Regions from separate parts of the Homo sapiens genome. Here regions 2, 3, 4, 5, 6 and 7 are each linked to region 1. Evidence: fine-mapped expression QTL. A gene starts in region 1. Each other region holds a variant in brackets. All regions are shown on one strand. Distances are between the middles of the regions. Region 1 holds the start of CCDC66 (coiled-coil domain containing 66). Region 2 has its middle 37 kb from the start of CCDC66. Region 3 overlaps TASOR (transcription activation suppressor). Region 4 overlaps TASOR (transcription activation suppressor). Region 5 has its middle 16 kb from the start of TASOR. Region 6 overlaps ARHGEF3 (Rho guanine nucleotide exchange factor 3). Region 7 overlaps TASOR (transcription activation suppressor).

Evidence for each region.
Region 2: its variant is fine-mapped to the expression of CCDC66 in whole blood (TOPMed, PIP above 0.99).
Region 3: its variant is fine-mapped to the expression of CCDC66 in skeletal muscle (GTEx, PIP above 0.99).
Region 4: its variant is fine-mapped to the expression of CCDC66 in whole blood (INTERVAL, PIP above 0.99).
Region 5: its variant is fine-mapped to the expression of CCDC66 in whole blood (INTERVAL, PIP above 0.99).
Region 6: its variant is fine-mapped to the expression of CCDC66 in whole blood (TOPMed, PIP above 0.99).
Region 7: its variant is fine-mapped to the expression of CCDC66 in whole blood (INTERVAL, PIP above 0.99).

Annotation. Positions count from the first base shown.
Region 1 is chr3:56,554,344-56,559,003 of GRCh38, reverse strand. CCDC66 (coiled-coil domain containing 66) reads right to left here and starts at 1,829. Exons shown (of 18, transcript NM_001141947.3): 1 at 1,751-1,829; 2 at 94-158. The coding sequence starts at 1,761. RefSeq lists enhancers at 1,414-1,573, 1,042-1,713, 1,714-2,386.
Region 2 is chr3:56,517,980-56,522,639 of GRCh38, reverse strand. No RefSeq gene overlaps it. Among named protein-coding and RNA genes, the nearest start is that of CCDC66, 37 kb to the left of the region's middle. The variant G/A (reference allele first, on the strand shown) is at 2,259.
Region 3 is chr3:56,650,325-56,654,324 of GRCh38, reverse strand. All of the region lies in intron 11 of TASOR (transcription activation suppressor), which reads left to right. Among named protein-coding and RNA genes, the nearest start is that of TASOR, 31 kb to the left of the region's middle. The variant A/G (reference allele first, on the strand shown) is at 2,024.
Region 4 is chr3:56,676,579-56,680,578 of GRCh38, reverse strand. All of the region lies in intron 1 of TASOR (transcription activation suppressor), which reads left to right. Among named protein-coding and RNA genes, the nearest start is that of TASOR, 4.7 kb to the left of the region's middle. The variant G/TG (reference allele first, on the strand shown) is at 1,571.
Region 5 is chr3:56,696,741-56,701,400 of GRCh38, reverse strand. No RefSeq gene overlaps it. Among named protein-coding and RNA genes, the nearest start is that of TASOR, 16 kb to the right of the region's middle. The variant TACACAC/C (reference allele first, on the strand shown) is at 2,545.
Region 6 is chr3:56,768,851-56,773,510 of GRCh38, reverse strand. All of the region lies in intron 2 of ARHGEF3 (Rho guanine nucleotide exchange factor 3), which reads left to right. Among named protein-coding and RNA genes, the nearest start is that of ARHGEF3, 31 kb to the left of the region's middle. The variant G/A (reference allele first, on the strand shown) is at 2,307.
Region 7 is chr3:56,634,000-56,637,999 of GRCh38, reverse strand. The region is part of intron 17 of TASOR (transcription activation suppressor); the gene reads left to right. Among named protein-coding and RNA genes, the nearest start is that of TASOR, 47 kb to the left of the region's middle. The variant A/C (reference allele first, on the strand shown) is at 1,611.

The DNA of each region.
Region 1 (4,660 bases):
CACTCTATTACAAGCAAAAAGTCTGTTGAACTAATATAAATTTTATGTATGAATTTAAAAGTTAACATTTCAGATTTCTGTAACACAACATACCATATGGAGACAATATTAGCTTGGTTTTTCCATCCAGTAATTCAGTTTCAAGCTTTAAACCATCTCTGTAATAAAAAAAGAAAGTTGTCTCTCATTTTTAACAAACCGCAACATTTTAAATAACCAGAAATGTTCATTTGAACCTGACAATAAATCCATTATTTTGAATTTATGCAGGAATCTTGTACACATCGAACCAGTGTTTTAATTAAAAACGTTTGCAATCCAAGATAAAACCCACAACTACAGGGGGAAAATTCTTGAAACTCTTCAATACTACAAGCATTGTTATCATTAACCTGAAATCTCATTTTGTTATTGGTAAACTATAAATTAAGTTATCATACCACCATTTTTTAATAATGCTGTTACCAAAACTCCTCACATAAGTTAAAGGAACAAGATATATTTAACCGCCATTCATTAGTTTCATAATGAACTCATGACTAAAACATTCTATGGAGTGCTGGAGCATCGATATGACTACTAACAATGCCATCAAGGTTAGTAACTGCTTGAGCAAAGAGTACCACTTTCAATATTTCAAATAATACATAGTGATATTTAGTATGGTGCTTTATACGTGCATATCAGAAGCAAAGGCATAAAGTAACAGTAGCCACTGCCAACAAAACTTGAACGTCTGTTAAGGTCCTAAAACTCCACTGAGAACAAAAATGGCAGCCCATACATACAGTCCATAATTCAGAGAGAGAAAATTAAATCCAGCAAGCCAGTCAAGGGAGAGAGAGGCTGGGAAAGGTCTGATTAGGAATGCGAAATTTGCGGTGTTGCTCAGGTAGGGGAAATCAAATTACCTCACCTTAACTATTAAAGGTAAAACACTGGAAAGAATAGGTTTTACGGCTTTCCTTATTGTAGGGTTATGAACAGTTCGTGTTTATGTTGGTGAAACGTCACCAAGAAAGAAAAGAGCTTCAATGGTAAAGTACCTTCAATGACGCACTGCACTGTAATCTCCTTAAGGGACACACTATCTTATTTATTTCCATATCCCCAGATTCTAAAACATAATAACATTTGCTGAACGATGTGTAGTTAGGTCTGAGTTTGGTGGCTTCTCATCTTCTCAAAATATCAAACTTGCGAGTGATGAAGACCATGCACCAGCCCTTTTTATTTATTCACCCCTACTTAAGGAGCGCCTACTAGGTGTTAGGCACTGGTACTACATCGATTTCTTGAGAAGCCTGGTTCCCCGCCTCGTGGGCCTAAAACGAATTTGGGCGTTTCAACATTCTGCAAGACTCCAAAAACAAGGTGGCGAAGAACCCGGGGCATGGGCCAGGAGTCCTCCCCAGGAGCCGCCACGCTTCCTCTAACTGTCTCGTCATTTCTCTCCTTTCCTCCTCACCTCTCTTCCCTCCTCATCCTGAGGTAAATAAGGGACCGAAAGGGGATCACTGGCAGTTTTAATGCTAGTCATTAAGTGAAAACGTAAGGTCTGTGGAGTCGCTAAGGGCCGACCCATCTGCCTCGATCTTCTACCCGAGAACTGGGCTCTGCCCCTCTCGGCGGCGCAGGTTGGGAACGTTCTCCAGTAAAGACTCCAAGGGACAACCCAGACACACATGCCTCCCTCTCCGCTGACGACCACCTTGCTTACCCCAGCTTACCCCAGCTTACCCCTGCTTACCCCAAGTTCATGGCCTGACCTCGCACTCTCTCCACAGAACGCTCAAGCCCCTTGTGTACGTCGGTTGCCGCCGCCGCTCAGCAAGCGCTACGCCAATTGGATATAGGGGTGCCGGCGAGCTGAGCAAGTGGACCAATCAGGGTGGGGCATGCTGGCGGGTGCGCTGAGCTGGGCCGGGGCTCCCGCGGGGACGGTTGCGTATGCCGTTTGTTCCCCTTTTGTGCCCCGTTTGTGCCGTTTGTTCCCCTACGCACAGCGGAATTTGGCCTGACCCGGCTTATGAGTCTAAAGCTTCGGTGGCGGAGACCTGCGCTTCTCGCAATTGTAGCCTTCCAAAGCGCGTACACAGACACACACACACACACACACACACACACACACACACACACACACACACACACACACACACACCTTTTTGGGGTCACCATTTGCAAGTAAGTTACAGACATTGTAACACTTAACCCTTTAACATTGCAGACATTGTAACACTTAACCCTTTAACATTGCAGCATGTATCTCCTAAGAATAGATGTTCTGCTACATAACCGCAGTACAATTATTATACCTAAGATCATTAATTTCATAATAATTCTCTTCCCGATTTAATTTCCCCCACTTGTCCTAAGAATATCTTATAGGCATTTTATTTAGAAAGCAAGAGCCAATCGCGCCACTGCATTCCAGCAGCTTGGGCGACAGAGTGAGACTCCGTCTCAAAAAAAAAAAAAAAAAATGCAAGAGCCGATCAAGGATCACACATTACATTTGGTTGTTAAGTATCTTTGCACACACTCTTTCCAGACAAAAACAATGAAAGGTATTAATTATTAAATGCCTGACAAACCTTTACTTTTTTATTTTTTATTGTTGTAATATGTGTGTTAAAATTTGCTATTTTTAGCCATTTTCAAGTGACAATTCCATGATACAATGTTGTGGAATACGCCAGTATATTTTTCCAAAAGCTTTTTAGTACCCCCAAATAAAAATTCTGTACCCATTAAGCAACAACTTCCCATTTTCCTCTCCCCTCAATCCTAAGAAACCTCTAATCTTATTTCTGTCTCTAGGAATTTGCCTATTATAGATACTTCATGTCATAAAAGTGGAATCATACAATATTTGTCCTTTTGTGTCTTCTCTCAAGTAACATAATGTATTCAAGGTGCATCCATGTTGTAGGATGTATCAGAGCTTCATATCTGTTTATGATTGAATAGTATTCCATTCTATGTATATATATACCACAATTCGTTTACTCATTCATCCATTAATAGACATTTGGGTTGTTTCCATCTTTTAGTTATTGTGAATAATGCTGTAGTGAACACTGATGTACAAGTATCTGTTTGAATCCCTATTTTCAATTTTCTTGGTATACACCTAAGAGTGGAATTACTGGGTCACATGGTAATTCTATGGTTAACTTTTCGAGAAACTGCCAAACTGTTTTCATAACAGTTGCAGCATCTTACATTTCTGCCAGCAATGTATATGAGGTTCTAATTTCTTCACCCCAACACTTGCTTTTTCTTTTTCTTTTCTTTCTTTTTTTTTTTTTTTTAGAGACAGGGTTTTGCTCTGTCACCCAGGCCGCCTACATTGGTACGAACATAACACTGTAACCTCGAACTCCTGGTCTTAAATGATCCTCCTGTCTCAGCCTCCCAAGTAGCTAGGGCTACAGGCATGCACCACTACGCCTGGTTAATTTTTAAAAAAATTTTTGTAGAGACAGAGTCTGTTTACGTTGCCCAGGCTGGTCTCAAACTCCTGGCCTCAAGTAGTCCTCCCACCTCAGACTCCCAAAGTGCTGGGATTATAGGCGTGAGCCTGTAGCCAGAATGATTTCTAAAATGTGAATCTGCTTAATTCACTCTGCTTCTTAAAATCTCTCAATATAGGAGAACGTCCTTAACTTGATAAGCAATATCTACAAAAAATCTCCTAGAGACCGGGTGTGGTGGCTTATGCCTGTAATTGCAGCACTTTGGAAGGCCAAGGCAGGAGGATTGCTTGAGTGTAGGAGTTCGAGACCAGCCTGGGCAACATGGTGAGACTCTATCTCTATTTTTTAAAAAAATCCTGTAGAGCCCAATATCACACTTAACAGTGAAAAAGTGCAACTTTTCCACTGAGATTGGGAACAAGAGCAAGGCAAGAATGTCTCTTCTTATCACTGCTTTTCAACATCACACTGGAAGTCTGAGCTAATCCTAAGACTTAGCCTTAGTCCTAGCTAAGACAAGAAAAAGAAATAAGTATACAGACTGGGAAGAAAGAAAGAAAACTTTGTTTGCAGATGACATGATTGTCTATGTAGAAAATCTGAAAGAAGCCACAAAAAATCCTCCTGGAATTAATAAGTGAGTATAGTGGCATTGCAGAATGCAAGGTTAATACACAAAAGCCAATTGCTTTCCTGTATGTCAGCAATGAACAAATAGAAGCTGAAAATAAAAACACGATACTGCCCAGGCGCGGTGGCTCACGCCTATAATCCCAGCACTTTGGGAGGCTGAGGCGGGCGGATCACGAGGTCAGGAGATCGAGACTGTCCTGGCTAACACGGTGAAACCCCGTCTCTACTAAAAATACAAAAAATTAGCTGCGTGTGGTTGCAGACGCCTGTAGTCCCAGCTACTCAGGAGGCTGAGGCGGGAGAATGGCCTGAACCCAGGAGGTGGAGCTTGCAGTGAGCCGAGATCGCACCACTGCACTCCAGCCTGGGCAACAGAGAGAGACTCCGTCACAAAAACAAACAAACAAACAAACAATACTATTCACATTAGCATCCCATCAAATCAAATGCTTAGGTATAGATCTAACAATATATGTATAAAATCTATATGAGGAAAATTACAAAACTCTGATGAAAGAAATCAAAGAACTAAATAAATGGAGAGATAT
Region 2 (4,660 bases), 36 kb after region 1:
AGCTACAGCAAGAGACTGGAGGTTTAGGGGCCTCTCCCCTTAGGCCACGGCTGAGCTTCCAGCAGGAGGCTACTGCCCGGGGATGCATGCATGAATGAAGACAGCTAAGCTGAGCACTCAGTGAGGGCAGAGATACCCTCTGCCACGGTCATTGCCGGCAACCTCAGCATCAAGCACTGTGGCTGGCAGAGGGCTGGCACTCAGTAAGCTTTTGTTACATGAATGAATAAAAATAAAAAGGGCTTTGAACAAGAGAAGAGAAAATTTGATCTCCCTGGATTTATAATCAGACAATTAAAAAAAATTTTTACTTTAATTCTGGGATATATGTGCTGAATATGCAGGTTTGTCACATAGGTATACATGTGCCTATGGTGGTTTGCTGCATCTATCAACATGTCATGTAGGTTTTAAGCCCCACATGCATTAGGTATTTGCCCTAATGCTCTCCCTCCCCTTACCCCCGACAGGCCCCTGGTGTGTGATGTTCCCCTCCCTGTATCCATGTGTTCTCATTGTTCAGTTCCCACTTATGAGTGAGAACATGCGGTGTTTGGTTTTCTGTTCCTGTGTTAGTTTGCTGAGGATGATGGTTTCCAGCTTCATCCATGTCCCCGCAAAGGACATGAACTCATTCTTTTTTATGGCTGCATATTATTCCATGCTGTTTATGTGCCACACTTTCTTTATCCAGTCTCTCATTGATGGGCATTTGGGTTGGTTCCAAGTCTTTGCTATTGCCATATGTGTGCATGTGTCTTTATAGTAGAATGATTTATAAATCCTTTGGGTATATATCCAGTAATGGGATTCATGGGTCAAATGGTATTTCTGGTTCTAGATCCTTGAGGAATCGCCACACTGTCTTCCACAATGGTTGAACTAATTGACACTCCCACCAACAGTGTAAAAGCGTTCTTATTTCTCCACATCCTCGCCAGCCATCTGTTGTTTCCAGACTTTTTAATGATCCCCATTCTAACTGGCATGAGATGGTATCTCATTGTGGTTTTGATTTGCATTTCTCTAATAACCAGTGATGATGAGCTTTTTTTCATATGTTTGTTGGCCGCATAAATGTCTTCTTTTGAGAAGTGTCTGTTCATAGACTATGAACAGAAGTGTCTGTTTATAGTCTGTTCAAAAAGTACCCACTTTTTGATGTTTGTTTTTTTTTTCTTGTAAATTTGTTTAAGTTCCCTGTAGATAAGCAGATGATTTTTTTTTTTTTTTTGAGATGGAGTCTCACTCTGTCTCCCAGGCTGGAGTGCAATGGCGTGATCTTGGCTCACTGCAACCTCCACCTCCTGGGTTTAAGCGATTATCCTGCCTCAGCCTCCTGAGGAGCTGGGATTACAGGTGTCCGCCACCGTGCCCAGCTAATTTTTGTATTTTTAGTAGAGACGGGGTTTCACCACGTTGGTCAGGCTGGTCTTGAACTCCTGACCTTGTGATCCGCCCACCTTGGCCTCCCAAAGTGCTGGGATTACAGGCATGAGCCACCGTGCCCGGCCGATAATCAGATGATTTTTAACAGCTCCTTTGATTAATTGGGTGATTCTGAGTTGCATTTGATATACTAAAGACCCAAGGCCCAATAAAAGCAGACAAAGAATTTGGGTTTCCAGATACCTCTGCCTTTTTTTTTTTTTTTTTTTTTTTTGAGATATAGCCCTAGGTGCCTCTTTGGTTATATTTAAAGTAAACTTTAATGCCTATTTAGTCAGCTCTCTGATTTAATTACAAATTCTTCTTGATTATGGGTTAAATTTTGACTTCATAAGATAATTTGAATTCTAGCTCTGTATACTTGGAAGTTATTATTTTGGGACACTTTACTAATTAAGAAAGGTTTCTGTATCTGGTAGGCATAAAGAAGGTTTTCCTGTATAGGTGATAGCAATTGAATTTCATCTCACTTGTCAATTTTAATGGATTGGTTTGTGTGGGGTGTTAGATTGAGAAGGATTCTGAGGCCAAGCCTGAGGTCTGTAGAGAACGTTACCATGCATGACAGATGATCAAGGTCTTCTTGGCTGACAGAGGCAGGAGGATAGAACATGTCCTTCATAATTTCTATCCCTGCTCCACAAACTATCATATGAGATCGAAAGTGCCTCTTCTGTGACCAGAGACTGAATGCAACCAAGATCTGCAAACCAGGGGAGTGATTAGTAGACACATCAACATAACTCCATCCTGAGGGAGTCATTTGTTGTTAGCTTGATGACAAATAGCCTGAAATGAAATTATTGAGG[G/A]AATCTGATTCCTTGTTAGAAAGATGAAGATGTAAATCAACACAAAATTGTGAAGTCCAAGAAGTCACTGAGAAGTGTTCCGGAGAAGGAGTCTTCTGGAAAGAAAGTTAATAAGCCTAGTAGAGTAAAAAATAGCCCAGGGATTGGTACCAGATAAACACGATTGTCATCAGCTGTGTGCCTTTGGATAACTCAGCCTTTCTTCCTGGGACTGCTTTCTCCTCTCTAAATATGGATACTAATACTTGCTCTGCAGACGATAACAAGTATATATAAAAAGGGCCTGGCGCAGAGAACAACTCCAGCGATAGCCATTTTCCCATAGAAGTGTAAATTGCTGGATATCTTTGGACATTTTCCTTTAGATTTGTTTCTTAACAAGTTTATATTTTAAACATTCTTTTGGGAACCTTTCTACTTTAGAAGATCCATGAGTGTCAGCTATTGCTGGCTTTATGAATATTTAAAGAAAGCAATATAACTCCCATGCAATAGTTGGCACTGGCAATTCAATGTAAGAGATAATCTAGAGTTAAGCTAAATTACCACTGTCTTTTGAATCTACTCGTATGTGTCCTCTGACTTGATCCAAGCTGTCTGTTGATGCTTCCACTGCCTAGTTCAAATAAACTTTGTCACCTCTTCAGCTGCCTTAGTAGCACAACATATAGATCAGAAGAAATTGCATCAAAATAACAGATACATAACTCAGAAAAGAGACAAACTCTGGGCTTAGGGAAAGATGGCGTTCTCAGCACTCTTTCACATGACTCTTGTAATTTCAGTTGCTCTTAGAAACAGATTTCTTTACATGGCAGTTGCTTTTTAAATCCAATTTATACTTACACTTATCTCCAGAGTTATCTCCAAAGGAGTTCTAGCAAAGAGAACTATGCAAACATTGTTTATTGGGTGGAACTGTTTTTCTAGATCCCTTTAGAATTTCAAATATGGAAATTTGGGTAGGAAAAGATCATTATCAAAATGGTACGTTTCCAAAGAGATTTTATCTTTATTTACTTGGATGTAGGAAAGCAGTCTACATATCCGCTTCTGTTTCCACATGGGAGAGAAAGTTGGGAAGCAAGTGAAATGTTTATCATTTGCCTACGGTTTTAAAATGTAAAAAATTTCCAGTTGGGCCTATGGAGGTAAAAGCTGCTTTATAAAAAATACATTTGGATACAGGAATATCTAAAATGTAGAATAGGACATTTGTGTATTGAATTATTGAGACAACCTGGAAAAATTTATCATGGAGAAAGTAAAAAGAAAACATACAGGTGCACACACACACACAAGCACTCACACACACACTGCTGATTGGTAAGAGAAATGGTGTGCATGCACATCTGGGAAAAGAAAGCTACATAGAAATATGAGATTTTAAAATTTCAAGAGTCATTTTATAGCACTTTCAGGCTTGGGAGGCAGTAGAGTTCCATGGTTATGACATTGGACTCTGTAGGCTGACAGATCTGGGTGCAAGTCTTAGCAACCTAGGAATATGGGTTTTGTTTTATTATTCTTCTCCCAACTCCAAGCTCTCTGATAGTTCTTTCTTTTCTTTTCTTCTTTCTTTCTTTTTCTTTCTTTCTTTCTCTTCCTTCCTTCCTTCCCTCCCTCCCACCTTTCTTTCTTTTCTTTCTTTCTTTCTTTCTTCTCTCTCTCTTTTCCTTCCTTCCTTCCTTCCCTCCCTACCACCTTTCTTTCTTTTCTCTTTCTTTCTTTCTTTCTTTCTTCTCTCTCTTTTCCTTCCTTCCTTCCCTCCCTCCCACATTTCTTTTTCTTTCTTTCTTTCTTTCTTTCTTTCTTTCTTTCTTTCTTTCTTTCTTTCTTTCTTTCTTTCTTTCTTCTTTCTCTCTTTTCCTTCCTTCCTTCCTTCCTTCCTTCCTTCCTTCCTTCCTTCCTTCACTCCTTCCTTCTTTCCTTCCTTCTTTTCTTTCCAGGGTCTCCCTCTTTCACCCAGGCTAGAGTGCAATGGCACCATCTCAGCTCACCACAGCCTCAACCTCCCGGGCTCAGGTGGTGATCCTGCCACCTCAGCTTCCCTAGTAGCTGGGACTACAGGTGGGTGCCACCACACCTGGCTAATTTTTTTGTATTTTTTGTAGAGATGGGGGTTTTACCATGTTGGCCAGGCTGGTCTTGAATTCTACATATTCTCAGACACCCACAGTTCATATTTAGTTTTTATGAATGAAATTAGCCACACTGTCAAATAATATTTCATATGGTCTGTTTGCATAGTGAAACCTTCTTTTTTCTTCTTGAGACTCAGTAGGAGACTTGCATTTGCCCCTTGTATTTGGTCACTTTTGTCTATGTTCAAGCCTCTCTAGGTGGATTAATTTTCATCTGTCCATATCGGAGTCTAAACTAAAAGACAGATGTTACAGTGG
Region 3 (4,000 bases), 96 kb before region 1:
ATGAATGAGATTGACCTGAAATTTTCCTTTCTTATACCATCTCTGCCTTTTTTTTTTGAGACAGAGTTTCGCTCTTGTCTCCCAGGCCAGAGTGCAGTGGCACAATCTCAGCTCACTGCAACCTCTGCCTCCCGGGTTCAAGGGATTCTCCTGCCTCAGCCTCCCAAGTAGCTGGGATTACAGGCATGCTCCATGACACCTGGCTAATTTTTGTATTTTTAGTAGAGACAGGGTTTCATCATGTTGCCCAGATTGGTCTCAAACTCCTGGGCTCAAGTGATCTGCCTGCCTCGGCCTCCCGTAGTGCTGGGATTACCAGGGTGAGTCACCAAGCCTGGCCAACTTTTACTTTTTTGAGACTTGTTTTGCTATTTCTGTCTTTAAGTCAGAAAAATAGTCAATAAATACTCAGTTGTAAGTAGTGCTTTAGTTGCATTTCACGTTTTAATGTGCAGTATTTTCATTATTCATTTCTAAGAAATTTTTATTTTTTAGTTTCCAATTTTTTTTTAACTTTGATATATGATGTAGAGGTATGTGTATAGGGAAACAGGGATACTTTTGTCTTTTTTATTTCTAATTTAATTGCATTGTAATCAACAATGGTGGTGATTATTTGAAATTTGTTGAGACTAAGATCTACTGTGTGGTCAATTTTTGTACATGCTCCTTCTGTGTTTGAGAAAAATGTATAATCTATAATCATTGGGTGCTGGGTACACAATTCTGGGTTGACAGCTATTTTCTTGCACTTTGACTATGCTGCAGTGTCTTATGGCTTCTATTTTTGTTTAGGGGTTAGCTCTCAGTCTAATTGTTCCTTTGTAGGTCCCCTGCCGCCCCCTGGCTACTTTTTAAATCTTTTTTTTTTTTGGTCTTTGATGTTTAGCAGTTACAGTATCTAGGTGTAGATTTCTATTTATCCAGCTTGGTATATCTTTTCCTTTCATATCTGTGGATTTGTGTCTTTTTTTCTGGAAAATTAGTTATCTCTTTTATTGTACTTCTCCCTCATTTTCTTTAGCTTGTCTTTTCTTTTTTTTTTTTTTTTTTTTTTTTTTTGAGATGGAGTCTCACTCTGTTGCCCAGGCTGGTGTGCAGTGGCATGATCTTGGCTGACTGCAACCTCCACCTCCCGGGTTCAAGCAGTTCTCCTGTTTCAGCCTCCCGAGTAGCTGGGGTTGTAGGTGTGTGCCACCACACCTGGCTAATTTTCGTGTATTTAGTAGAGACAGGGTTTCGCCATGTTGGCCAGTGGTTGTGAACTCCTGACCTCAGGTGATCCACTGGCCTCGGCCTCCCAAAGTGCTGGGATTACAGGCGTGAGCCACTGCGCCCGGCCTGGCCTGTCTTTTTAGGACTCTGAAGAGGCATATTTTCCACGTCTGTTAACCTTGTCTATGTTTTCCATCTATTTGTTTCTCTGTGCTGCATTCTAAGTAACTTCATCATAACTATCTTCTAGTTTAAAAATCCTGTATTTAGCTGTGTCTTATTTGTTGCTTTATTTATTTATTGTGTTTTTAATTTCACAGGGAATGTTTTTTATTTTTAAAAGTTACATTTGAATTTTTTTGGATCTGCCTGGTTATTTTATAGCAGGTTCTTGTTAAGTCTTTCAGAAGTATTTAGTGAGTACCTATCATACGCCAGGCAGAGTTCTAGGAGGTGCACATTATATTCCGGTATTCTTTGCCTATATTTTTTAAGTGAAATAAAATTCACATAACATAAAATTAACCATTTTAGCCATTTTTTTTTTTTTTTTAAATAGGCAGGGTCTTGCTTTGTCATCCAGGCTGGAGTGCAGTGGTGTGATCCTGGCTCACTGCACCCTCGACTTTCTGGGGTCCAGTGATCCTCTTACCTCATCCTCCTGGGTAGCTGGGGCTACAGGTGCGTACCACCACACCTGCCTGATTTTTGTATGTTTTGTAGAGACAGGGTTTTGCCATATTGCCTGGGCTGTTCTTGAACTTGGCCTCCCAGAGTGCTGGGATTACAGGTGTGCACCACCGTGCCC[A/G]GCCATTTTAGCCATTTTAAAGTATATAATTCTATGTTTTTTTTAAAAGTAGATTCACACTGTTGTGCAACATCAACACTATCTAATTCCCGAACATTTTCATCTCAGAATTCACTGTACATTCCCCCTTCCTAATCCCTAACAGCCATTAATCTACTTCTGTCTCTATGGATTTATCTGCTCTGAACATTTTATATAAATAGAGTCAAGAATATGTGGCGTTCGGTGCCTGGCTTCTTTCACTAAGCATAATTTTCAAGGCTCATTGATGTTGTAGCATATATCAGAACTTCATTCTGTTTTATGGCCCAGTATGCTTTCATTGTGTAGATAATACCACATTTTGTTTGTTCTTTTATCAGTTATTTCTATTTCTTGGCTACTATGAATAATGGTGCTATGAACATTAGCGTAAACATTTTTGCTTGAAAATGTTTTTAATTCTTCCAATTATTTTATGTCTTTAAAGATTTCATAGTGGATTATTTTCCTTTTTGCATCTGATAATTCCAATTTTTGATGCCTTTGAGTGTTTGAATCTTTTTTTTTCTGCTGAATCTCACTTTAGTGTAGCTTATTTCCTTCTAAGCTTTTTTTTTTTGAGACAGGACTCTCTGTTGCCTAGGCTGAGGTGCTATAGTGCGTGGCACAATCACAGCTTCACAGCTTGAACTCTCAGGATCAGGCAATTCTCCCACCTTAGCTTTCCAAGTAGCCAGGACTATAGGCATATGACGCCACACATGACAACTTTTAAAATTTTTTTTGTAGAGTTGGGGTCTTGCTGTGTTGCCAAGGTTGGTCTTCAACTCCTGGCTTCAAGCAATCCTCCTCCCACTTCGACTTCCCAAAGTGCTGAGATTACAGGCATGAGCCACTGCGCCTGGCCCATTGTACATGTATTTATACTAACTCTTTTTTTGTGGGGGTGGGGGAGTGCTATAATACCTTTAATGTTATCTGGAAATTTAAAATAGTAGAATAAACTAATTTAAAAACCCCAGAGATTGGATTAATATCTTTTTTTTTTTTTAAGAATAACCAAACAGCTAAAATAGAGACAACAGGAGCACAATTTGCAGGATTTTTCTTTTCTGCAGAGTTGAATGGATTTCATTGGGCTGAAGCCACAGATATAACTGCTGAAGCCTCTGTCAGCCTTAGTGTTGTTTCTGATCATAGATTGCTTGTACTCCATGGATTTCTGGAAACATTGGGCCCCCTTAAAATACAGGAATCTTTAGGTTACTGGTAGTGGAATTTATAAAACCTAGTATTTGGAGTGAGTGAGAGGTTAAAGGCATCTAATTGGTTTTCGTCAGTGAGCACAAAACATGAAAATCTTGTGCTTCGTAACTTTTTATTTCATCAACTAGGAGTTTGAACAAAATATTAAAAGAAGTATATTATCTAAAATACTTTGGATAAAAGTATTTGAAACAAAATTTTCAGGTACATTGTCCGCTTGTAGTATACTCTAAGAGACTTAGCGTGGCTATAAATGGTAGCCGTAAGACCCAGTTAAATATCTTGCAGGGCCAATACTATATGTCAGCAGTATGATGTAACTTGGCCTGAGGATTTTTAACCTTGGCCCTGGGATTTTTAGGAAACAAGGCCACCTCAGCACAGATTAACTATTAGAAACCTTACAACAAAGTTTACCCTTACAAGAATATTTGAACTTCCTTTATAAAAGAAAGACCTGATAACTGACCCTCATGGAATCCAGGCAGTAAAAATGGGGAAAGATTCCCCAAAGTTTAGAATGGTCTTCAGATGGACCTAGTCATTTGGTCATCTGACCCCATGACTTTATCTGTCCCATACCACCAGCCTGCTTCCACTAAAATAACCTCCTTGAGTACCAGGTATCTAAGACTCATTTTTGGCACAGATTGAACTGAAGGAGAAGTTGACCCTGGAGAAAGTGGTCAACTAAGCTACCTGAAACCCCCAAACACAATACCACTTTAC
Region 4 (4,000 bases), 120 kb before region 1:
AAAAATTCAAAAACAGTGCAGGTTCTGTTGCATTCATATTTTAATATGGTAGACCTTTTCTTGTGACTGTGCTTTTCCAGTGAAATTTAAGATTAGGACTTAAATATTTTAATACCTTAAAGGTCACTGCTATGCAAATACAACTTGACTCAGAAAGTTCTTTTTTTGGTCTTCCCAGTAGTGTGACATCCAAAATAACTGCCATTGTAATTGAGTAATAATATTGGCAAACACTTGTATAGTGCCTAATAAGTTGTGGGCATTGTTCTAAGCAATTTACATACATTGACTAAATCTCAACAATGTTTTGTGGTAGGTACTATTCCCATTTTACAGATGAGGAGACTAAAGTACTGAGAAGTTAGGTAACTTGCTTCAGGTCACACAGCTAAGTTGTGGAGATGGAATTTGAAGGTAGTTGTAGAGTACTTTTACTACTATAAAAAAGAAAAATCTTGCTACCCAGTTTGAATAATCTAAGGGTTTAAGTTAGCTGCTTTTGACCTGACCTGTTAGTAACAAAAACTGTTCCCCCCCTTCATTAAATATAGAAATATTTAGTATGTTTTCATCCTTGGGGAATTTTGACATTCAGAAATTATGTTTACTATCAACATTTGGTTGGTACTGACATACTAAGTGCGTCTTTGACTGGAAAGGTATACATTTTACTGTTTTTGATGTATGTTATTTATTGGCTGAGGCATGATTCTTACATTTAACCAAATTATAGAATTTAACCAAATTGTAGAATTGCATTTTGTTGGTAGATGTTTCACTATTGCCTTCTTTAAATCTAGTGAGTCATAAAAAGTAAATTAAAATTGGTAATTGCATTTGATGTAATTTTTCCCTCCAAAGTTCTTGGGAAATGGAGTAGCGATGATTCACTTTCTGGAAAACGTTTATTGGTTAATGTTTTTGTAGGGTCCAAGGGAGTCTCAAAAATTAATTGCGCTCATGCACTAAATTTCCATACTGGTTTAGTCCAGAAGTAATGGCTAATTCTCCTAACCTCCATCTTCCCCCACAAAATTTTCACTTGCCTTTTTGAAGTCATTGGAGCCAAGTCTCATTCTTAAGGAAATTTCCATGGTATTTCATTAGTTGTATATGGATGAGTGGGTTCTGAGAACAATAGCTCTCTCCATACATAATAGCAAAGTAATCAAGGTAAAATTTACTTTGAGCTATCCTCAGTCCAAAAAACTTTGTTTCGTATTTGTACTCTTGATTCCTGCCAGCATATTCATTTCTAATTGTACACTATGTTCAACCTTGTTGATGTAGAGATGAAGTACCCACTCCTAAAGTATTGTCTGTGGTAATTTTTTTTAGAATGAAGAAAAGTGATTTTAAAAAAAGATCTTACTGTGAAGAACAAATGGATGGAGAGTGGTTGTATTATAATCATTAATAGGCGTCAGCTGTGAATTCAGAAAATTTCAGATCCTCAGCCTCTTCTTGCTAATTATTTCGTCATCTTCTATGTATTAGTTACTTTAAATCAGACAATTGTTTATTTGTACTTCGTATGACCCATTTGTATGTCTTTTTTTTTTTTTTTTTT[G/TG]GAGTCAGAGCCTCTGTTGCCCAGGCTGGGATGCAGTGTTGCGATCCCGGCTGACTGCAGCCTCTGCATCCTAGGTTCAAAGGATTCTCCTTCCTTAGCCTCCCCCAGTAGTTCGGATTACAGGCATGTGCCACCACGCCCAGCTAATTTTTGTATTCTCCTTAGAGGTGGGATTTTGCCATGTTGGCCAGGCTGGTCTGGAACTCCTGACCTGAAGTGATCCGCCCTCCTTGGCCTCCCAAAGTGCTGGGATTACAGGCATGAGCCGCCACGCCCAGCCCCATTTGTATGTTTTGATAGGAATGATATGTCTTTTAAGTTTAGCTTTTTTAAATTTATGTATATATGATAATATTTTTTGTGATACATGTATACATAATACAAAAAGATCTGCCTTAACACCAAACAAATTGGTAAAACTAATTGATGAAGATGTTCTTTTGATTAAGGAACAAAGCTGTTTGATGACCTAAATTATATATCAATGCCCACTGCCTTTATAAATACAACCTTCAAATCTTGAGTGTGGGCTGGGCATGGTGGATCATGTCTGTAATCCCAGCACTTTGAGAGGCCGAGGTGGGCGAATCACGAGGTCAGGAGTTTGAGACCAGCCTGGCCAACGTGGTGAAACCCTGACTCTATTAAAAATACAAAAAATTAGCTGGGCCTGGTGGTGGGTGCCTGAAATCCCAGCTGCTCGGGAGGCTGAGGCAGGAGAATAGCTTGAACCCAGGAGGTGGAAGTTGCAGTGAGCCAAGATCGCGCCACTGCACTCCAGCCCGGGCAACAGTGCAGAACTCCATCTCAAAAAAAAAAAAAAAAAAAAAATCATAAGTGTGTTTTGTATGATACTAGTAATAAAAAATATTTGATGATAGTATGGCTAAGAGTCAGGAAATTTGAATTCCAGTTGAAATTCTATGATACTATCAGTTTCCTCGTTTGAATTATAAATCTCTAAGTGCCCTTGTAAATCTGCTCTTCAGTCTCGTAAAATACATCTATAATTTGTAAGTAGGGAAACCTTGTGTGATCAGTAATCAACTTAGCTGTTCTTCTGACAGGCATTTAATGGAAATCGATCAAATAAGCAAAATTACACATTTCTTAATGTGTGAAAGAACTTCTATTGCTACTGCTGTTAACCTTTATAAAACAAAGGGTGTTACGACTCTTGGCCCTGTTGTCTCTAGAGGAAAATTAAAATCAGAAAAAATTAAGAAATTTGAGAGAAGATAGGAAGGTAGAAAGAGCAGTATTAGAACGAAATTCTTTGTTCTTTTATATTAACTTCCTGTGTCTAAGTGTTGTATATGATTTCTAGTCTATAAAGTGAGGAAACAGTCATTTTTCCAGCTCTTGACATGATTGGACATTGTATGTCTAATACCCATATGCACACACACATCATATATTTCAGGATACAAGAAAGGGAGCTTAACCACTTGAATTTGAATCCCAGCAGCTTGATTCATTCATTAACCCTGTAACCTTGGGCCAACTCAAAAGGCTACTTGTCTCAGTTTCAATTGAGAAACGGGCATGTTGAACTTCATAGTGTAGTTTTGATGATTGAGATGATATATGTAAAGCTCTTAGTACAGTATTGAAGGTGGTACTTAACCACTAATGGTTAGACAGTAACTGTCAATCTAGAGAACAGTGTATTGAATACTGAGTTCCCTGAGTGAAATGGATAATTCATATACATAATGCTTTCCCTATTTGGATAGACACAGGGTTGTTTATTATTACTACCTCAAATAGTGACCCATAATTGAGATTTTTGACTTAAATATTTTCTTTAAAAGGAGTGACAGGATACATTGATCGAGATACATGTAGTGTTAAATGACCTCTGAGGACATAAAATAGACTACCAGAAAATGTACATTCAGAACATGAACTTAATAAATTTTCTGAACTGCTGTTAGCAGCAAGTTGACTTGAAATCCTTAAAAATAGTTGCAGGATAATTTTATTATCTTAGAAATTATCACCAGAAAAAATGAGAAATTATAACCGGCCTAACGAAGCCACTGAGGCATTTGCAATACAAAATAATTAGGATACAGATATTTATTGTTAAAGCTAAAATGCTTTTTCCTTTTCATTTGCAATAATTTTTTTCCTGTCAGCTGTCATTTTTAGTACATTGGACATGACTTGGACATTGCTTTAGAGTCAACTGGAAATGTTAAGTACTTTGAGAATAATTTGGATGTGAACTTTTATGCAGATTCATGATTTGACTAATTTTTTACTTACGATTAGATTAATGGTAGAAATTGTATTGGGTAGCTTAACTAATGAAAATTTCTTTTATGTAGACTAACATTTCATAGAAATTGGCAGCCATGTGATACCTTTTTTTGTGTACATTTTATATATCTGAAGTCATTTTGTTTAGAAACAAAATCGTGTAAA
Region 5 (4,660 bases), 140 kb before region 1:
GCCACTGCACTTCAGCCTGGCAACAGAGTGAGACTCCATCTCAAAACAACAACAACAACAACAACAAAAACACGTAACAAAACACCTGGCATCATCATTTTATGGTTTATTATTTGGTCCTTTCAGAAAGTTATAAATTACTGACATGTTAAAAAAAGAATGTGGTGGGGAGTGGGGGAAAAACAACAGCATCCTTTAGTAACTGTGATTACTAGTACTTTAGTAAAACCCATCTCTACTTCTTTCCTGCTTCTTTGAAATTCTCTCACACTGTAGTGCAACCTCAGTTTGTATCTAGGCTGACAATGACCAAGGATGGAGAAGTTCTAAGCCATCCTTACCTAGATTTTTGCAACAATGTCCTAAGTAGTTTTGTTGACTCCAATCCACCTAAAATCCACCTTCTATAACGAGAACCAGAATGCTCACACCTGTAATCAAGCACTTTGGGTTGCCAAGGTGGGAGGACTGCTTGAGCCCAGGGGTTCGAAACCAGCCTGATAACACAGGTAGACTCCCGTCTCTGCAAAAAATAAGAAAATTAGCTGGGTGTGGTGGCACACACCTGTGGTCCCAGCTACTCGGGGAGCTGAGGTAGGAGGATAGCTTGGGCCCTGGAAGTTTCGGCTGCAGTGATCTGTGATTGTGCCACTGCACTCCAGCCTGGGTGACCGAGTGAGACCCTAAGAAAGAAAGGAAGAAAGAAGGAAGGAAGGAAGGAAGGAGAAGGAATGAAGGAAGGAAGGAGAAGGAAGGAAGGAGAAAGAAAGGACAGGAAGAGAAAGAAAAAAGGAAAGAGAGAAAGAAATGAAAAGTTAAAAACAACAAAGAAACCCAGAATGATCTGTCTAAAATGCACGACTGATTGGGTCAGCTTCTACCTAAAATCCTTAACTTCTTATATTTTGCATCAGGATTAAATCCAAATCCCTTAATGTGGCATATGTTCTGTGATTCAGCTAGAGCCTTCAGACCAGCCCGCCTCTCCACTTGCCGCCTCATCCTGTATACCACAACAGCCAACTGTGCTTCCCTGCTGCAGAAACCTTTTTGTTTCTCACATTGGTATCTTTGTTCTTTTTTTCTCTCACCGTTTCTCTACCTGGAATTCCACTCATGCCATTGCCCTTCCTCTTCATCTCTGACATTCACTGACTCAGCTAGTCTCTACAAGATAGTCTTCTTCTCTTTTGCTAGTGTATTTACAAGCAGGAACTGTGTCTTATGTTTTATTCCCTGGGTCAGATATAGTTCTTAGCAAACACAAATTGTTCAAGAACTAATTGCTAAGTAATTGCATGTGTTTAGTAAGTGGGTGCCAGTGATGTCAATGTAGTAAGCTCCAGATTATCAGTGTCCCAGCATGAGGGTATGAGCATTCTCCTGTCTTTTGAATGTCTTAGGTTATTGTAGACAGACTGTAGTTAAAGGTACTTGAGGCTTTGAGACAGAATTGTATGCTATTTTGTCTTTTTTTTTTTTTTAATTGAGACGGAGTCTCACTCTGTTGCCCAGGCTGGAGTGCAGTGGCGTGATCTCGGTTCACTGCAACCTCCGCCTCCCAGGTTCAACCAATTCTTCTGCCTCAGCCTCCTAGGTAGCTGGGATTACAGGCACACACCACCACTTCCGGCTAATTTTTGTATTTTTAGTAGAGACAGGGATTTCACCATGTTGGTCAGGCTGGTCTCGAACTCCTGACCTCGTGATGGCCGCCTGCCTCAGCCTCCCAAAATGCTGGGATTACAGGCATGAGCCTCTGCGCCCAGGCTTTTACATTTAAAAGAATGTAAAACTTGCATTTGACCCCACTTCAAACTCCTTCAGGTAAGAAATAGATGTCTTAGTCAGTTTGGGCTGCTGTAACAGAGTACCATATTGCTGGTGGCTTATAAACAACAAACACTTATTTCTCACAGTTCTAGAGGGTGGGAAGTTTGACATCAAGGCACTGGCAGATCCAGTGTCTGGTGAGGAACCACTCCCTCATTCGTGGACAGCCATCTTTCCACTGCGTCCTCACATGGCTAAAGGGGTAAAGGGGCTCTCTGAAGTCTGTTTTATAAAGACGCTAATCCCATGCATGAGGGCTCCACCCTCATGACCTAGTTACCTCCCAAAGGTCCTACTTCTTTATCTGACAATTATCAAGGATGGTGAAATCCTAAGAGTTTCAACATATGAATTTGGGTGGGACATAAAAATTTAGTCTGTAGCACTAGGGAAGTGGAATTTTGCTTATTATCAGGCTGGGCATGGTGGCTCACACCTGGAATCCCAGCACTTTGGGAGGCCAAGGTAGGCAGATCACTTGAACCCAGGAGTTCCAGACCAACCTGGGCAATATTGCACAATCCCATCTCTACAAAAAATACAAATTAGCCCGGGTGGTGGTGCATGCCTGTGGTCCCAGCTACTTGGGAGGCTGAGGTGGGAGGATCACCTGAGCCAGAGATGTCAAGGCTGCAGTGAGCTGTGATCTCACCACTGCACTCCAGCCTGGGTGGAAAAAAAAAAAAAAAAAAATATATATATATATATATA[TACACAC/C]ACACACACACACACACACACACACACATACACACACACACATATATACACATATATATATACATATATAGTATCTTTATACTTATTTAGTATAAGAGATTTGGAACGACTTTGACAAAATTAAATATCTTACGTTGCTTATTATATTTCTAGTAAACAGAAATTCAACAAAGGGCCATAGGACTTGTAATAACAGATTGATTAAGAGAGTGAAGAGTTCTTTAGCACTGAAAGAAAGGAGAGCATTGGCGGGTGCGGTGGCTCACACCTGTAATCCCAGCACTTTGGGAGGCTGAGGCAGGTGGATCACCTGATGTCAGGAGTTCGAGACCAGCCTGGCCAACATAGTGAAACCCCGTCTCTACTAAAACTACAAAAATCAGCAGGGTGTGGTGGCGCACACCTGTAGTCCCAGACTCGGGAGGCTGAGGCAGGAGAATCACTTGAACCCAAGAGGCAGAGGTTGCAGTGAGCCGAGATCATGCCATTGCACTCCAGCCTGGGCGACAAGAGTAAAACTCCATCTCAAAAAAAAAAAAAAAAAAGAAAGAGAAAGAAAGGAAGGAAGGAAGGAAGGAAGGAGAGCATCATCTGGTGAGTGTTAACTACTCCACATCTCTAACAGGAATGTGGATAAGCATCTTCTAAAGGAATTATGGATTTATACTATTTCAATACTATTTTTATCAAGGAAATGTATATGAATAGTATTTTATTTTTAATATATATTTTTTGTTGTTGCTAAGTAAGCAAAACTGATTTTTTGGACCATTATTATCATATATTCTGTCTCTAGAGCAACTCAGATTCTCAAGAGAATGGACTAATCACCAAATGGCACAAACTGCAAGTAGAATTCCTCTAGATAAGTAACTGAACACCACATTTTCTTCAATTAGATAAATGTCTGGTGTTATGTTTCTATAATTTATGTAAATTGCAACCATAGACCTACCAATTACCCTATTTAAACTTGGCTGGTTCCCCAAAGATTTCTTAGGAAAAAACTTATTATTAATTGCCTATCTTTTCAGAGCCACTGGGCCGGGGGTGGGGGAAGGGTAGGGTACTGAAACTTGAACTCGTATTTTTTGTAAAGCTCTATTTTTGAGAATCTCTTTTAACTGGAATGTTTTACATTAAATGAAAAAATAATTGGGAAAAAATATTTTTTTCACTTGGGAGTATTATGGGGAAGGACATTTGAAATGAGGCATTTAAAGCCAAACCATTATCTAACTTTTTGTTTCCAAGAGTTGAAATGGAACTTTTTGGGGAAAAGAATCTGGAATATTTAATGTTGTTAAGTCACTGGGCTTTAGGTTTAATGTTCTTTTTGAAGAGGGTTAATGTGAATTAACTCTAATACGAATCATTAAAATATAAAAACCAGGAAAAGAGCCAGGCACGGTAACTCACGCCTGGAATCCCAGCACTTTGGGAGGCCGAGGCGGGTGGATCACCTGAGGTTGGGAGTTCGAGACCAGCCTGACCAACATGGAGAAACCCTGTCTCTACTAAAAATACAAAATTAGCCAGGCGTGGTAGCGCATGCCTGTAATCCTAGCTACTCTGGGGGCTGAGGCAGGAGAATCACTTGAACCTGGGAAGTGGAGGTTGCAGTGAGCTGAGATGGCGCCATTGCACTCCAGCCTGGGCAACAAGAGTGAAACTCCATCTCAAAAAAAAAAAAAAAAAAAAAAAAATCAGGAAAAGACACAGCTAGCACTTTTGCTACTCACATATTCACATCATGGCTGGATATAGACATGCATAAGGTGGAGGGTCCAATGCCAATTGCTGGTGCTTTAATTGACCCAGGCCATATCCCATTGTAATCTTTGCGTTATCTTGCTATTATTGTATTGGTCAAATTTAGAATTTTTTCTTTTCTTTTTTTGGTGGGGGCAGGTGGAGAGAAAACAGGAAATGATTTACTCAGTTCTTTCTACACAATTAACATAAATTTAAGCATAGTTGCCTGTCAAATAACTTCCTGTATTATATACCTGAGAAAGAATTTCCCCCAAGCTATTAGTGGAACACTATATCAACCTCCTTTTTTAAAAAACAGTTTAAGGCTGGGTGTGGGGGTTCACGCCTGTAAGTA
Region 6 (4,660 bases), 210 kb before region 1:
TGTTGTGGTTGGGCCTTTCCCCACAATTGTATTTCAGAGTTATGTGCCCCATCCAGACATACTCTCACGCGATTTTTTTCCTAAAATATCTATGGGCCTCCTGAGGAAACCAGCACATGATGTTAGCTGGAGGGCAACAGAGCCTAGTAGCTTCAACCAGGGTCGGCAAACTGCATTGGGTGGAGAAAATCCAGTTCACCACCTGTTTTTTTATGGCTCACAAGCTAAGCCTGATTTTTACTTTTTAAAATTCTTGGGGGAAAGTCAAAAGAATGGTGCTGTTTCGTGACACATGAAAACGACATGAAATTCAAATTTCAGTATCCATAAATAAAGTTTTGTTGGAACATAGCCATGCCCATCTGTTTATTGTCCATGGCTGCTTTGTACTATGGCATAATTGAGTAGTTGTGACAGAGACCATATTGCCCACAAAGCCAAAAATATTTACCATCTGGCCCTTTACATAAAATGTTTGCTGACCCTTGGCTTAGAATGAGGACCTAAGGACCTCGGAGTGGAAGTACCTTGGGTTCTAACCTCGGCTCACCTTGGGCAGGTGACTTAACATCTCTAGGTCTTGCTTTTATTTTTTATTAAAAAAATGTTTTTTCCATACTTCATCCTACAGATAGGTCTTGCTTCTATTCCATATCAGTAAATTTGCCATGATGCCACCAAACGTTCATGGAATCATTGTAAAGATTTACAAGACAGTGCATTTAAAGGGCATAGCATAACACCTTGGCCCTTAGTTAGCAATCATTAATCTTCAAATTCGTTAACTAAGTAGTAAATATTAGCTACTATGATAGTTTTTTAGTTAACAAGTAGTTATAGTTGTTCTTAAACTGTTGATGAAGTGTATCTTTTAAAGTGAACGTTGAGATTTATCCAAGCCCTTGGACCAATTTGATAATTATACAAATTTTCTTTTAGATTGAAGCCCACAAAAAATATGCCATGAAAAGGCTCACCTGGTTTAGCTGAGCAGCAGTCTTGAGTCTGCCATGTATTTGTCCTGAATGCTTTTGCTTGGCAATATTTTGTATCTCTGCTTTCTGAGTCTTTAAGAAAACTGGGGACCAGAACCCAAGGCATGCCTCATGCTGTGAAAATCCATGACTTGAGAACTGTTTGAGGTTCTCCCTCAGCCCTTTCTGTCCTTGCCTGCCTACCATACAGCCAATATGTCATGACTCCACATAGCCCAAGTGGTTCTTGCTACTTTCCCATAGATGCCCTTCCTCTCCATTGCTTTTCCCCTGCCCTGCCCGTTCCTCTGTTAACTCTGTTGCAGTTTCTCCTGAATGAATACCTCACGTAATTAGCTATAGGTTTGGGTCTGTTTCTCTCAGCACTTGGGCCGCTGGATCCCTGGTTAATACCCTGATCCCTTTTGTGGGAGAATGGAGGAAAGAGAAAATAAGGTCATCTGGGAGAGCAAGATGAAGGGCTTTGAAACTAGTGAAGAAGAATGTGTTTACCTTTTCTCCCTTGTGACCAGTTCTTCAGCCCTCTCGACAAGTTCATCGCAGGCATCCCCTGGAAGATTCATCACTGCCCTAGTCCCGCACATCTGGTCTCTCACTGAGTTACTGCTTTTTGAAAATTCTTCAGAATGTCTACTGCATTTCACCCTTTCCTCTCCATCCCAGTGGCTGTGGCTCAAGTTCACTCTGCAATTATTTCCTTCCTTGATTGTCAGACCTCCAAATTACCAGCCATCTCTTCCCATTATTGCTCCCAGGACAGTCCACCCTCTGCCCAGGAAGGCCCTCATTCATTCAGTCAGTGTTGAGTGAATCCTCATCAGGCATTAGGCTCTTCTTGCCCTCATATTGCTATGTTCCAGATATAACAGAATTGCCTTTTGGTAGGTTTGCTGCAGTGCTGTGTTCCCACATGGCAGTAATGAGCTAGACCTAGGCAGCCAGCCAACCATCACCTACAAATGTCCCCACCTCTCCCAATTGCCCTTCTAACACCTGGCCCTTTACTCTCTGTCATTGCCTTGCCTAGTTGGTAGGCTTTTTGTGTTTGTGCTCCTGGGCCTAGGAAGAGCACAATCTGTGCCTCCCACTACAGCCCAGCCCTGGCTGCTTTAAGATCTGTTACCATACCTTCAAAATCTTTCTTTTGGCTTCTCAGGCAAAATTTCTTTCTTCTGTTTCTGGGGTTCCTTCACAGGTAACAGTGCAGGAAACATTTGCTCACCTCAGAAATTTACATTGACCTAGAGAACTAGAACAGAAAGAAATCAAGCCATGTCTGAAATCCAGCAGACTGAGGCCAAGCAAGGATGA[G/A]AAAGCCAGACCCAAAGGAGGATCTGACATGTGGAAATTGGTTTTTAAAACCTCAAAGATTTTTTTGGCAAAATAATTTTTTTTTTTTTTTGAGATGGAGTTTCACCCTTGTTGCCTGGGCTGGAGTGCAGTGGCGCGATCTCAGCTCACCGCAACCTCCACCTCTCGGGTTCAAGCGATTCTCCTGCCTCAGCCTCTCAAATAGCTGGGATTACAGTCACCCACCACCACGCCTGGCTAATTTTTTGTATTTTTAGTAGAGATGGTGTTTCTCCATGTTGGCCAGACTGGTCTCAAACTCCTGACCTAAAGTGATCCACCTGCCTCGGCCTCCCAAAGTGCAAAATAAGTTTTTAAGTTAATTTTTTCAAATATTGTGATAAATAGCTTACTCTAAGCTTTATATATTGGCCAGAAACAACCCAGCAGAAACAGAAGAGTTATTCACAATGGTAATGTACATAGATATGGAGAGAATTGAGCGATGTGCTTATGTTTGAGAGTGTCCTTGGGGGGACAGTGAATGGAAATACACCCCTCAAGTTGTATGCAGAGTTAGCAGCCATGTTTGCAGAATGATCTGCAAAGCATGGAGAATGCCAGCTTGTCCCCACATGTCTTCTTGTAACTCACCTTGGTGCACACGGTGCAACTTCTATGGCATTATTTCCAGCCCTAGCATCTCAATAATAGTTTCCCTCACCAGCTAGACTGAGAGAAGGTGCCAATTTATATTTTATTTTATTTCATTTTATTTTAATTTAATTTAATTTAATTTAATTTAATTTAATTTTCGAGACAGAGTCTTGCTCTGTCACCCAGGCTGGAGTGCAGTGGCGTGATCGTGGCTCACCTCCACCTGCGCCTCCTGGGTTCAAGTGATTCTCCTGCCTCAGCCTCCCGAGTAGCTGGGATTACAGGTGCCCACCATCACACCTGGCTAATTTTTGTGTTTTTAGTAGAGACGGTTTCGCCATGTTGGCCAGGCTGGTCTCAGACTCCTGACCTTAGGTAATCCGCCAGCTCAGCCTCCCAAAGTGCTGGGATTACAGACATGAGCCACTGCACCTGGCTGGATGCTAATTTAATGTGGCCTGGGAGCAGTAAGGATGAGGGGGAAGAGCTGGCCCCAAAGGGGTGCTCAGTGGGCTCACTTCACATCCTCTCCGATTTTGTCTAAGTCTTGGTTCCCTTTCCAATAAGGGAGAAACAGAGAACAAAGAGTGTATCAGCTGCCCCAAACCTCTCAGCAGCCATCCATTACCCATATGTGTGTATTATTTATGCCTTTTCTATTCCAAAAATGACTCAAGGCTGTAATTGAGCAGCTTGGTTCTCTGTTGCAGTATTCCTTTTCCCTGGCTTCTGACACCTTAGAGACATATATATTCCTTTGGATATTCAATTATGTCTCTCAGGTTGGATTCTTTTAATTATAGAAGAGATGACTTAAGCCCAAATAAGGTGCTCTAATCAGTGCTGGAACACTTAGCAGACCTTCCTCTGGTTCCTCAGGAGACCACAAGTTAGCCCAGGAGGATATCAGGAGAGCTCTGGGCTGGCAGCCACTTCCAAAAATGTTAAAAGCCCAGTCACACATGTGAGTGGTCCTTGCAGCCACAGTTCAGCAAGACACTGCAGGATTTGTTCTCTCTTGCTTCCTGTGCCCATATGGGCTGGGGGCTTGCACCCCAACACAAAGGCAGCATTTGTGGACGCTGGGGAGGGACAGCCTGACTGCATGGCTCTCTATCTGCTTCTCACCAGGAAGGTTAGCACTGCCGGTAGACTCAAGCACAGATGTCTGGATCCCTCTGAGCCTATAAATTCCCTCCCTGGCCTGCCTGAGAGGAAAATCTGGCCCAGCTCTGAAAGGGGACCTCATGCGCTCCTCTGGTGTGGAGTGAGGAAGGCGAGCTCGCCTTTGGCCAGTCGCTCCCTGAGCCCTGCCTCTCCCTGTCCACAGCTGTTCACGGCTACTGGACTCATTTGAGCTGAGTTCAGCACATGCTATGGAATGTTGTGTTCATGATGTTGTGATGTAGCCCCTCATTCTCTTTGGACTTGCACTTTTTCCTTTTCCATTATAAAAGTGAATGTTCATTATGGAAAAATGCAGAAAAGGAGAAAGAGAAAAAGAACATGTATAGTCTTCCAACTCCAAAACAATCCATTAATAGTTTACCAGTTTCCCTCTAGCACTATTCTAGGCATAGGTGCAGAGCTCACGTACTCTGAGCCTAGTTTTGGGTTCCTCACAGTCTATTCAGCCTTATCTCTGTCTGGGTGATCTGCTCACTTTTAGGTTAAAGCCTCCCACAGTGACTGTGGATGATCAGTTTCTCTTGCATCTC
Region 7 (4,000 bases), 79 kb before region 1:
TAGTTCTTCTGATTGTAAAACTAATTTCTGCAGGTAGATTAAATAAGATTAAGAAACTTGGATTTCAGAAACAGTTGCAGATATTATTGATTAGCTAGTTGGCAGTGGGTACCTAGGAGATAATCTTTGTCTGATCTTGGTGGATTCAACTTCTCTGCAGATGGTCATAGGCATTGTTTTCTTGTTTACAGTTTGGTGGTGATCTTTTTTATATTTTCCTTCAGTTTTGTTGTATCTGACTCTTTTCAGAAATTAAAGTGTTGTTTTTTTATTTGTAAGAAATGTGAAATGACTACATCTTTGTAGTTATTTATTTCCTTTGGGAGTTCCCCTCCCCCGCTAATTAAAGTTACTAGTTTCCTTGAAGAAAATCTTCACCATCTCCTTCTAGGAAAATGTGGTTAAAAAAAAAAAGAAACCATGAACAACAGATATATAACATAGAGGAAAGTTCACAAATCTTTTTTTTTTTCCCCTCTGATACAGAATCTCTCTCTGTCACCCAGGCTGGAGTGCAATGGCATGATCTTGGTTCACTGCAACCTCTGCCTCCTGGGTTAAGCGATTCTCCTGCCTCAGCCTCCCAAGTAGCTGGGATTACAGGCATGTGCCACCGCACCCGGCTGATTTTTGTAGTTTTAGTAGAGACAGGGTTTCACCTTGTCGGCCAGGCTAGTCTCGAACTCCTGACCTCAAGTGAGCCACTGAACCTGGCCACAGATCTTTATTGTACAGCTTTTTGAAATTTTACATATGTACATGACCATCACCCAAATCAAGATGTAGAACGTTTCTAGCATCCCAGAAGATTTTCTTCCACATTCTCCTAGTTAGTACTCTCCTTGTTCCCAAGTAAGTGCTAATCTGATTAGTTTTGCCTGTTGTTGAACTTAGGATAAATAGAGCCTACTCATGTCGTCTCTCGTGTTTGGTACTTTCATGCAATATCGTGTCAGGGAGTCCATGTTTTGCATCTATCAGTAATTCTTTTCTGATTTCGGGGTTTTACCATGTTGGCCAGGATGGTCTCAATCTCTTGACCTCGTGATCTGCCCACCTTGGCCTCCCAAAGTGTTGGGATTACAGGTGTGAGCCACTGTGCCCGGCTAGTAGTTATCTTTCTTATGCTTCAGAATGTTCCATCAGCACCTGCATTCCTCTTATTTGGAAATACCATCTTTATATTTTGTAAGCTAAAGTGTAGACATCTGAATGATGGTGCCTTTAGAGAACTGACTACTCCCCTTTCACTTAAAAGTTAAAATACTGCAATTATTTAATGGCAATAAGTTTTTTTTTAAAAAAGCACGGTGTCTCATGTTTGTAATCCCAGCACTTTGGGAGGCCAAGGTGTGCGGATCAGGAGGTCAAGACATCGAGACCATCCTGGCCAACATGGTAAAACCCTGTCTACTAAAAATAAAAAAATTAGCTGAGCATGGTGGCTTGAGCCTGTAGTCGCAGCTACTCGGGAGGCTGAGGCAGGAGAATTGTTTGAACCTGGGAGGTGGAGGTTGCAGTGAGCCGAGATCTCACCACTGCACTCCAGCCTGGTGGCAGAGCGAGTCTCTGTCTCAACAACAACAACAACAACACCACCACCACCACCA[A/C]CAACAAAAGCTTTATTATGGATTGACATGTATGTGTGTTTTCAATCACTTATAGATGAAGATATTTTCAAAATAATTAAGTTTTGTTTTTTTTTTCTATTTTTTTTTGCAACAGAATCTTGCTCTGTTGCCCAGGCAGGCTGGAGTGCAGTGGTGCAATCTTGGCTCACTGCAGCCTCTGCTTCCTGAGTAGCTGAGATTACAGGTGCTCGCCACCACGCCTGGCTAATTTTTGTATTTTTTTTTTTAGTAGAGACGAGGTTTCACCATGTTGGCCAGGCTGGTCTCGAACTCCTGACCTCAGGTGATCTGCCTGCCTTGGCCTCCCAAAGTGCTGGGATTACAGGCATGAGCCACTGTGCCTGAGCAGTTAAGTTCTTAATAAAATCATACAGGGAAATTTGTGCAAAATAAAATTAGGTTGTGATTATTTATATTTTATAAAGGGATCTATTTGGTTTAGAGGTTTTTAATTATGGAAAATTCTCCATGTGGATTTAATTTATATTTCAGGTTAAAAATATTCCCTTTATTTATAACCCTTGAGGAGTAAACTTACTGGTTGTTGTTTAGCTATACATTTTGGGAGCCACTGTTGCATTTAAAGTAATAAATAGCTGGGTGTGGTGGTATGTACCTGTAATCCCATCTACTTGGAAGACTGAGGCAGGAGGAATTGAGGCCAGAAATTCAGGGCCAGTCTGGGAAACATAGTGAGGCCCCATGTCTAATAAATAATTCAGAATTTTTTAAATTAAGGTAGTTCTTCGCAACCCATATGTTTTATGAGATGCAATTCAATTTTTTTTCTTTGAATATATCAGATATTTGACATGATACGTAATTCAAGAAGTCCAAAAATACTTAAGAAAGTAATACTGCCCCAGCCCGGAACACTTAGATTCTTCCCCATATATTAGCCATGGTTACCAATTTCTCGTGTATCCTTCCAGACACTTTATGTGTACTAAAGCACATTTTAATGTTGGAGATTTAAGATACTCAGGATATTTAGTACTCCTAATTATCTTATGAAACTTGGATTTTCTGGTTTATCAATTTCATACAGTTCTAATTCTTATCCTGGCACGTTGGATATTTTGTTCCCCTCTCACCTCCGCCTACAGACCCGCCTTGGGTCTTTTCACTGTGCTGACAAATTGCCTTTGCAATAGTTAATGAGTGTACTGGTTCATGATAACCACCAGGATTGGTAGAGAATGTCATAAGCTCGACTCCTAGTGAGGCTATTTAAACCTTTAGAAAAGTGTGATGAGTGTGAGCAAAATCTTCACTGTAAGTTTGAAAACTACCTGTACCTGGACTTTCTGATTTAGAGGCACCATTTCCTATACTACAGCAGCAATTTGTTAGGGAATGTTGGCCAAGGCTTAAAGAAAAACAGTAATTTTTTAGCGGGTAAAATTGTGTATACGTCTTCTAAGCAAAGATCATGAGTTTTTGTCCTTTCCTAAAATATAACACTAAAATTGAAGTTAAATATATTTTTCCCCTTGTTGCTTAAAAATGGAATTAGAGTTCCCTTTTTCAAATGTAGTTTCAAAAACATACTGTGTTTGAATTTAGGATTTTTTTGGGGAAAGTATGATCTTTTGGATTGAGCTGTTTGTCAAGAGTGAAAGGTTTTAATCTCATTAGTATCAGCTAACCTTAGTATCAGCTAACATCTGTATCTCAAATGAGGTATAGCTATCTTTTCTTTTAGAATTATTTCCAAACAAAAGGAAAATATTTATGAAAGGACTGTCAAAAATGTGCAGCTGTGAAATATGTTCTTCTCTTGTCTTATTATTGTTCCTTTTATTTCCTGATAAAATGAAGTCCCTGACATTACAGGAAATCTACTTAGCAACCTCGTAAGTGAGAACAAGTCTGAAAGCAGATAAAATTAATTATCCTAGATCCTAGATGCAACTTTTAACTTGGCAGTTATTCCCACAGCATTTCTGTTTGGTATTCTTACAATTGCCTTACACTCAGAATTCTTACTAAGGGGCCATTACCATAGTAGATATTACTTGGCAAATAATAAATACAGGGATTGAGCAAGCTGATGTAATTGACTGTCTTGATTTAAAATGTGTATTAAACTTAGATCTACAGAATGGTAGGGAGGCAGAAACAAGCAAATGACTTAATTTGTATTGATGCCAAATTGGTGCTTGCTTGAGCGCTTCAAAATAGCAGAGTTGTTAACACTAGCTACAACTCTAAGGACCATCCCATAAGTAGGGCACATAGGGAATAGAATTCATACCAGAATTTTAGGATTTTATTTTACCTTCTAATATATAATTAGTTCTAAATGTGTGTTAACCCTTTTTTCCCCCAATTTAAGGGTTTGTGTTTTCATATCTTATCTTTTTGGA